Homo sapiens: one gene and its partner. The protein of the gene in region 2 purifies or fractionates together with the protein of the main gene of each other region. This does not show direct contact. Each region holds a gene or a part of one and is shown on either strand. Other genes may lie near its edges. The genes, in order: CAAP1 and KLHL28.

Region 1 (3,828 bases), on a different chromosome or scaffold from region 2:
GAATAAAACCTTTCAAGAAACAATATTTTATACAAGTATTCTAACTTGAGACTAAAATAGATTTAAGAAAATAAGGCCAGGTGCAGTGGCTCATGCCTGTAATCCCAGCACTTTGGGAGGCTGAGGTGGGCAGATCACCTGGGGTCAGGAGTTTGAGACCAGCCTGACCAACATGGAGAAATCCCATCTCTACTAAAAATACAAAATTGGCCAGGCGTAGGGGCACATGCCTGTAATCCCAGCTACTCGGGAGGCTGAGGCAAGAGAATCACTTGAACCTGGGAGGCGGAGGTTGTGGTGAGCCAAGATCGTGCCATTGCACTCCAGCCTGGGCAATAAGGGTGAAACTCCGTCTCAAAAAAAAAAGAAAATAAGTGCTAAGTTGTTCACAGCCTCAAAAAATTAACTTTAGTGTCTCCGAGGCTTTACCTAAAATTTAAAGTGTATAGTCACTGATTCTGAATAAGAAACTACAGGCTGTATAAAATATTTTAAAATACAAATTTTTGAAAAATGTGACTTGTTTTTCAGACTAGGGGTTGTTGCGAGATAATGAATGAAGAGCTGAATAATATAATGAGGGGGTGGAGAAGAGGTAAACGGTAGTTGATTCAGAGGCTTGATCAGACTCAGGTTCAATTTTCTGGTAAGAATATTTAGAAGTGACGTTGTGTACTTCCAGCACATAATATATAATTGCTTTTCTTTTTGTGATCATGTCAGTATCCATTGAGATTGGGTATTGTCTACAGTGGCTGATGAGAATACTCTTGATTCCCTGAACCTAACCATTGTAATGCTTTTGTCTGTAATCTAGTTTTTTTCTGTGGCAACTTTCAGGAACTTTTTTTATTCTTGAATTCTATTTCACAGGATGTGTCTTAGGTTTGATGTTCTACACGTGGCAAGCCCTTTCAGGGTGACGGCCTTCTTCACCTCCTAACAGTTTTATCCAGATTATTTCTTTATTTTCCCTTTTCACTATCTACTTTCTTGCTTTCTGACTTATTCTGTCACTTTATCAAGTCCCTGCTCAAATGGTACCTTATCAGATCATAGTGATCACTCTCTGTGAAAGTGTCATCCTGCTACTGTCTTCTTATCCTGTTTTATTTTTCTTCATTGCACCTGACATTTTTATGTATTTTTACTCTCTCTCTACTACTTAAATGTAGGGCAGAGATTTTTGTTGTTGTTCCCTGCTGTTTCCTTGGTGCTTAAAACAGTGTCTTGTACACAGCAGGTGCTCAGTAATATTTGTTGAATTATACTCAGTTCATGTTGGACTTCATGAGTTGTTCATCTTCATCTCTTAACTTTTATTGCACATTTAAAAATATTTTTCTTTTCTGGATTTTGAGATATTTCCTTAACATGATCTCCCAGCACTGCTGAATATTTGCTTTTTCTGTCACCCAGGCTGGAATGCAGTGGCACAATCTCTGCTCACTGCAACCTCCACCTCCAGGGTTCAAGCGATTCTCCTGCGTCAGCCTTCTGAGTAGCTGGGATTACAAGCACGTGCCACCACACCCGGCTAATTTTTGTATTTTTAATGGAGACGGGGTTTCACCATGTTGGTCAGGCTGGTCTGGAACTCCTGACCTCGTGATCCACCCACCTCAGCCTCCCAAAGTGCTAGGATTACAGGTATGAGCCACCACGCCTGGCCGATATCTGTAATTTTAAATTCTAACAATTCTTGGTCTCTGGCTTTTTATCATTGCACCCTGTTTTATGGCTGCAGTGTCCACATTAGTCTCTCTCATAAGGATATTAAATGGACTCTCTTCTTCCCTTTTCTCCAAAAGATTATCTTCTGATCCCTGAATTTTATTTCTTCTTTTGTTTATCTTGGTCCTTCATTTGTTTTAGCTATGTTTTTCTGGTAGCTGGTTTGGTTTTTTTGAGCAGTTGTTTATTTCTCTAACAGATCTTTTTCTTTGATATAAAATGGATGAGGGGTAGGCCTCTCAGAGTAGAGTGCTTGGATATATGGCCGTGAAAAGGAGGGAAAGGAGGAGGAGTTCAGTTGGCTTAATTATTCAAAATGAATTTAATTTTAATTGCCATGTTGTTTGTTCCACAGCCAATTCTTCCTTCTTTCCAAGACTCAAGAAAGAGTTACACTTACCAGCTGGGCACGGTGGCTCACGCCTGGAATCCCAGCACTTTGAGAGGCCAAGGCAGGTGGATCACAAGGTCAGGAGTTCAAGACTAGCCTGGCCAAGATGGTGAAACCCCACCTCTACTAAAAATACAAAAATTAGCCGAGCGTGGTGGCGGGTGCCTGTAATCCCAGCTACTATGGAGGCTGAGGCAGAGAACTGCTTGAACCCAGGAGGCAGAGGGTGCAGTGAGCCGAGATTGCGCCACTGCACTGCAGCCTGGGTGACAGAGCGAGACTCTGTCTCAAAAAAAAAAAAAAAAAAAAAAAAGAAGAAGAAAAAAAAGAAAAAAGAAAGACTTACACTTATCTATGGTGTCTTTGGCTATGATTTTCCTTTCTTTTGTCAATTTGATCCTGTCTACTTATATTTTGTGAAAACCATAAAATTTCTAATCTTTACATTATATCTTTTTTGTTATACTGTAAATTCATTTTTTCTTTTAACGCTTTTTACAGTTCATTCTTGTAAAAGGTTGAAGAAATACATGTTCACAGAGCAAAATGGGAAAATTAATTTTTCTTCTTTTTTTTTTGAGACAGAGTTGCACTCTTGCTGCCCAGGCTGGAGTGCAATGATGCGATTTCAGCTCACCACAACCTCCACCTCCCAGGTTCAAGCAATTCTCCTGCCTCAGCCTCCCAAGTAGCTGGGATTACAGGCATGCGCCACCATGCCTGGCTAATTTCGTATTTTTAGTAGAGACGGGGTTTCTCCATGTTGGTCAGGCTGGCCTCGAACTCCCAACCTCAGGTGATCTGCCTGCCTCAGCCTCCCAAAGTGCTGGGATTACAGACATGAGCCACTGCGCCCGGCCAATTTTTCTTCTTCTTTTACTCCCCTTCCCAGAAGTAATCACTGTTAATAACTTATTTATTTTATTTTTAACAAAAACATAATTATCACTCTTTGGCTTACTTTTTTGACTTAAAAATATATCTTGGTCATTTTTTTTCATCTTAGCAATGTACTAGCTTCTTTTATAGACAGATAAAAATCCTCGTTTTTACTAGTAAGTAAAAAGCAATATTTTTTTTTTTTTTTTTTTTTTTTTTTTTTTTTTGACACGGAGTCTTGCTCTGTCACCCAGGCTGGAGTGCAGTGGCGCGATCTCGGCTCACTGCAAGCTCCACCTCCCGGGTTCACGCCATTCTCCCGCCTCAGCCTCCCAAGTAGCTGGGACTACAGGCGCCCGCCACCACGCCCAGCTAATTTTTTGTACTTTTGGTAGAGACGGGGTTTCACCGTGTTAGCCAGGATGGTCTCGATCTCCTGACCTCGTGATCCGCCCGTCTCGGCCTCCCAAAGTGCTGGGATTACAGGAGTGAGCCACCGTGCCCGGCCAAAAGCACTATTTTTTTAATTTACATTTATCTGATTAGAAATTAGGTTGAGCATTCTTTTCCACGTGTGTATTGCCTTCTGTATTTCCAGTTTTGTGAAATATCTGACTTGTTTCTACCCTTTGCCCATGTTTTTGTTTCTTAATAATACCTACATTCTATATATTCTTATATTTGTCCTTTTTTTGTAGTTTTCCTGTCTTATAATTTTATTTATGGTGTTTTTTTTTCTCAGAAATATTAACATTTAGCTAAATCTGTTGATTTTTTTTCCCTTTGTTTATTCCCTATTTTGTGGTTTACTTTGGAAGGACTGC
Region 2 (3,828 bases):
AAATCCCAAATCCAAAACCTGAAACACTTCTGGTCCTAAGCATTTTGGATAGGAAATATTCAATCTGTATGAGGAGTGCTCCCTAAAGCATTTCTGTCAGTATCTTAAAACCTTTCCCTTAAAATGATGTGATGAGTTTGAGTTCAAAGATAACAATTTTTCCTAAACCACAAAAGTGGATTTGTTTTGTTTCTACGAACTCTGAAATACAACCCTTTTTGATCAACTATACCCCCTGGGGAAGAAAGAACATTTGAAAGTGAACATACAGATTACTGATATACAATAGAAAACAAAACAGAACAATCCGAGGATTGTATGTATGTAACATATGAAAAGATGACATTTGTTACATGGACAAAAGGAGCTTCTATAAATACACACTCTAGTATAAGCATTTCCCAAAATGTATTCAGCAAGTTTGAGAAACAATAATATGCACATTGGCATATAAAAGTCACAATAAAGAAATCTATATACTTTTGTCTAGCTAATTGTCTTTCAAGTTTACCACATACAAGTCTTTTTTTTTTTTTTTCTGGACAAGTAATATTCCTACTGCTATATTCCAAGGAACTATTATTGCAAGCACATCATTATAGAAAACATTGCCTTACATGTTTAGAAATTAATAAATTCTTATTACCTGTTCTAGGTTCTTTCATTGGTCTACACACAGTCCACTGATTTTGATGAGGATCGTATCTTTCAATGCTGGACAAATGTGAGACTCCATTATGTCCACCCACCACAAAAATAAAGCCTAGCATGACACCCACGCCAAAGTGAATCCTTTTATCTGCCATGGATGCAACCATCTCCCAGGAGTCCTTACTTGGATCATAACGCTCCACACTGCAAATATTTAAAAAAAATTTAATTTACAGATCTTTTGTGTCATTCTTCCTGTCAAAGCAAAACTAAAACCCACTACAGCTTTAAAAGTTCACATAATAGAGAGATATTAAACAAGAGTAGTCTGCCACAAATGCTTAGGTTTTGCTGATAAGATTGCAAAGATAAAAGCTTACCTTGTAAACAAGGTGCAATTCCATATGCTATTCCATTATATTGTGCAAGCGGCAAAGTATATTAAGAGCATAGAACTTGGAGTCAGAAGACCTGGGTTCAAGTACTAATTCTGTATACCTAGGGCTGAACGAACCTTAACCCTACTGCTGTGGATTTGTGTAATCCTGAATAAGTCATTTCCTCTCACCTGCAAAAATGAGGATAGTGCAACCTGAAGGGATTCATATAAGAATAAAGTCAAATGAGTATGCACGTGACTTTGAAAACCACTAACTGAATACAGACTTTTTTTTTTTGTTCCTAAATTTTATTTATTTATTTTTGAGGCAGGTCTCGCTCTGTCACCTAGGCTGGAGTGCAGTGACAAGATCAGAGCTCACTGCAGCCTCAAATTCCGGGGCTAAAGTGATCTTTCTGCCTCAGCCTCCTGAGTAGCTAGGACTAAAGGTACATGCCCCCATGCCTGGCTTGAATACAGAGGTTTTTAGGATCTTCTATACAGTTAAGGGGAAAAGAAGAGGAAGAGAGGGGTGGGGGGTGGGGAGAAAAACCTTTATTTTTTTTCGTCACAGGAGAATTCATGTGGCTTACTGCAAAGCAATCACTGTAGATTGCATAGTACAAACTGGCTGATCATAATTATCTCAGGGTGATTTAGGAGTACTCAGGAATTTGAGTCAAGACTGTGTTTCAGAGAACGTGTGGCATTTCTAAGCTGCATTATGGAATCCAAATTAAATCAGAATTTTCAAAAAGGCTTCCCTAGAAAATTCTAGCAGCTGTTTAAGACTATGGTTTCCTCTGAAGGTGCACAAAGGCACAGAGGTAAGATTGTTGGGCTTGTTCTGGCCCTAACCTATTTCCTGAAAAAACCATAAGCATTTAACAGGCTGTGACACCATTCTGGAGTTCATAATAGAGACTGGGTAATGTTTCTGAAAGAACTCCAGGATAGAATCCATTAGACCAAAATCATTGAAGAAGAGTTGATGCACTGCAGCAAGACTTTCAAGATAATCAAATTTAAAATACTTAACCTTTTATCTTACAAATTTTGGGCAGAAGCTTTTCAAAGAATAGAAATGCATGTCTATGTCCCATATTTTTCCTTCAACTAAGGGCAAAAAATATAAATAAATAAAAGGAGGAATACTTTGGCTTCAATAGAAGTAAAAATTTACAGATGAAATGCTGTTGTGCCATCACTTTCTCAGTCAACAAACCTCAGTATTTGTAGAGGATTGGTTCCAGGATCCACCCCATCCCAAGGATACCAAAATTTGCAGATGCTCAAGTTCCTTATATAAAACAGTATAATATTTGCATATAAGCTACACGTATCCTCTTGTATACTTTAAATCATCTCTAGATTACTTATAATACTATGCAAATAGCTGTTATACTGTATTATTTTGTTTTTTATTATTGTAAATTTTTTCAAATATTTTTGATCCACAGTTGGATGGATCTGTGGATGTAGAACCCGTGGATATGGAGGGCTGACTGTATGCCCTGTCATTAAAATACTCACAATCAAAATAACACAAACCACTCTAATTACTATTAAAGATACAATCTTTTCTTTTCTTTCTTTCTTTTTTTTTTTTTTTGAGACAGGGTCTCACTCTGTTGCTCAGGCTGGAGTGTAGTAGTGCATTCAAGGCTCACTGCAGCCTCAACCTCCTGGGCTCAAGCAATCCTCCCACGTCAGCCTCCCAAAGTATTAGGATTACAGGCGTGAACCACCACACCTGGCCAAAGATAAAACCTTTGGAACATCAATTTTCAATAAAGGTTCAGAATTACGATTAATTTCTCATATAACTAGTTACTTCATACTTTTATTTTCTCATATATATTTCTCCTTTATTCAGATAAAACTACAGAATACAGATATCACAAATTCAAACTCCAGCACAAGTCAAATACCTGATGATACATGTATGATTACAGGAAAGAATTCAGAAAGGAATATTTAAATAAGGTTTTAAGTTTATGATGTGCTATAATATTGTATAGACACACAGGAATTAAATTTCTACTTCTTTATTCTATTAAGCAATACAATAAAAGATAATTTACATACTGTGCACATAGATGTACACACCACACAAAATCTAAAGTTGTCTAACTTCATCTTATTTTTAGGTTTCTGAGTTTTAAAATCTAGTCCATTTATAGTGAATGAATGTAAAATTTAATGAGAGGGATTTGATTGTTAGGTTTGTATTAAATTCCCATGTAAAACAATTACAATTATATCCATGGAGCAGATTAAGTTTCCCAAATGCCGGAAGTTCATTCATACACACAAATTGTTTAAAACTCAGAAATCATTGCTAATGAGACTTTTAAAAATCCATAAACATATGCAATTTAATTATTAAGTTAAATACCTGTTCATGTGGGCAGGACCATACCCACCAATGGCATATATCATTCCATCCAATACCGCTGCAGCAAAACAACTTCTTGTTGTCGTCATTGGTGCCACAGGTTGCCATTTTCTTATTTTGGGAATGTACTTCTCTACAGATTGTAAATAAGATTGTCCATCATAACCACCTAAGGCATAAAGTTCTCCTGCAAGTACTACTACTCCAAGAGTACTTCGGCTTTCATTCATTCTCTCTAGAGAAGTCCAAGTATTTGTATCAGGATTCCAGCATTCCACTGAATTTTCATGTTTTCTGATAGTGACGCCAGGACGCACATTAGTTGCAATACCACCTATAACATATACTTTTTGGTCTAAAACGCATATTCCAAATTCATAGCGAGGAATGTTTAGGGGTG

Evidence for each region.
Region 1: the proteins of KLHL28 (region 2) and CAAP1 purify together in Homo sapiens (affinity purification with mass spectrometry; one large-scale study listed by BioGRID and IntAct). This does not show direct contact.

What each region holds. Positions count from the first base shown.
Region 1 is NC_000009.12:26,844,002-26,847,829, forward strand, and holds part of CAAP1 (caspase activity and apoptosis inhibitor 1), read right to left. Parts: intron 1-3,828. UniProt on the Homo sapiens protein: Anti-apoptotic protein that modulates a caspase-10 dependent mitochondrial caspase-3/9 feedback amplification loop.
Region 2 is NC_000014.9:44,930,687-44,934,514, forward strand, and holds part of KLHL28 (kelch-like protein 28), read right to left. Parts: coding exon 3,429-3,828; intron 856-3,428; coding exon 647-855; intron 1-646.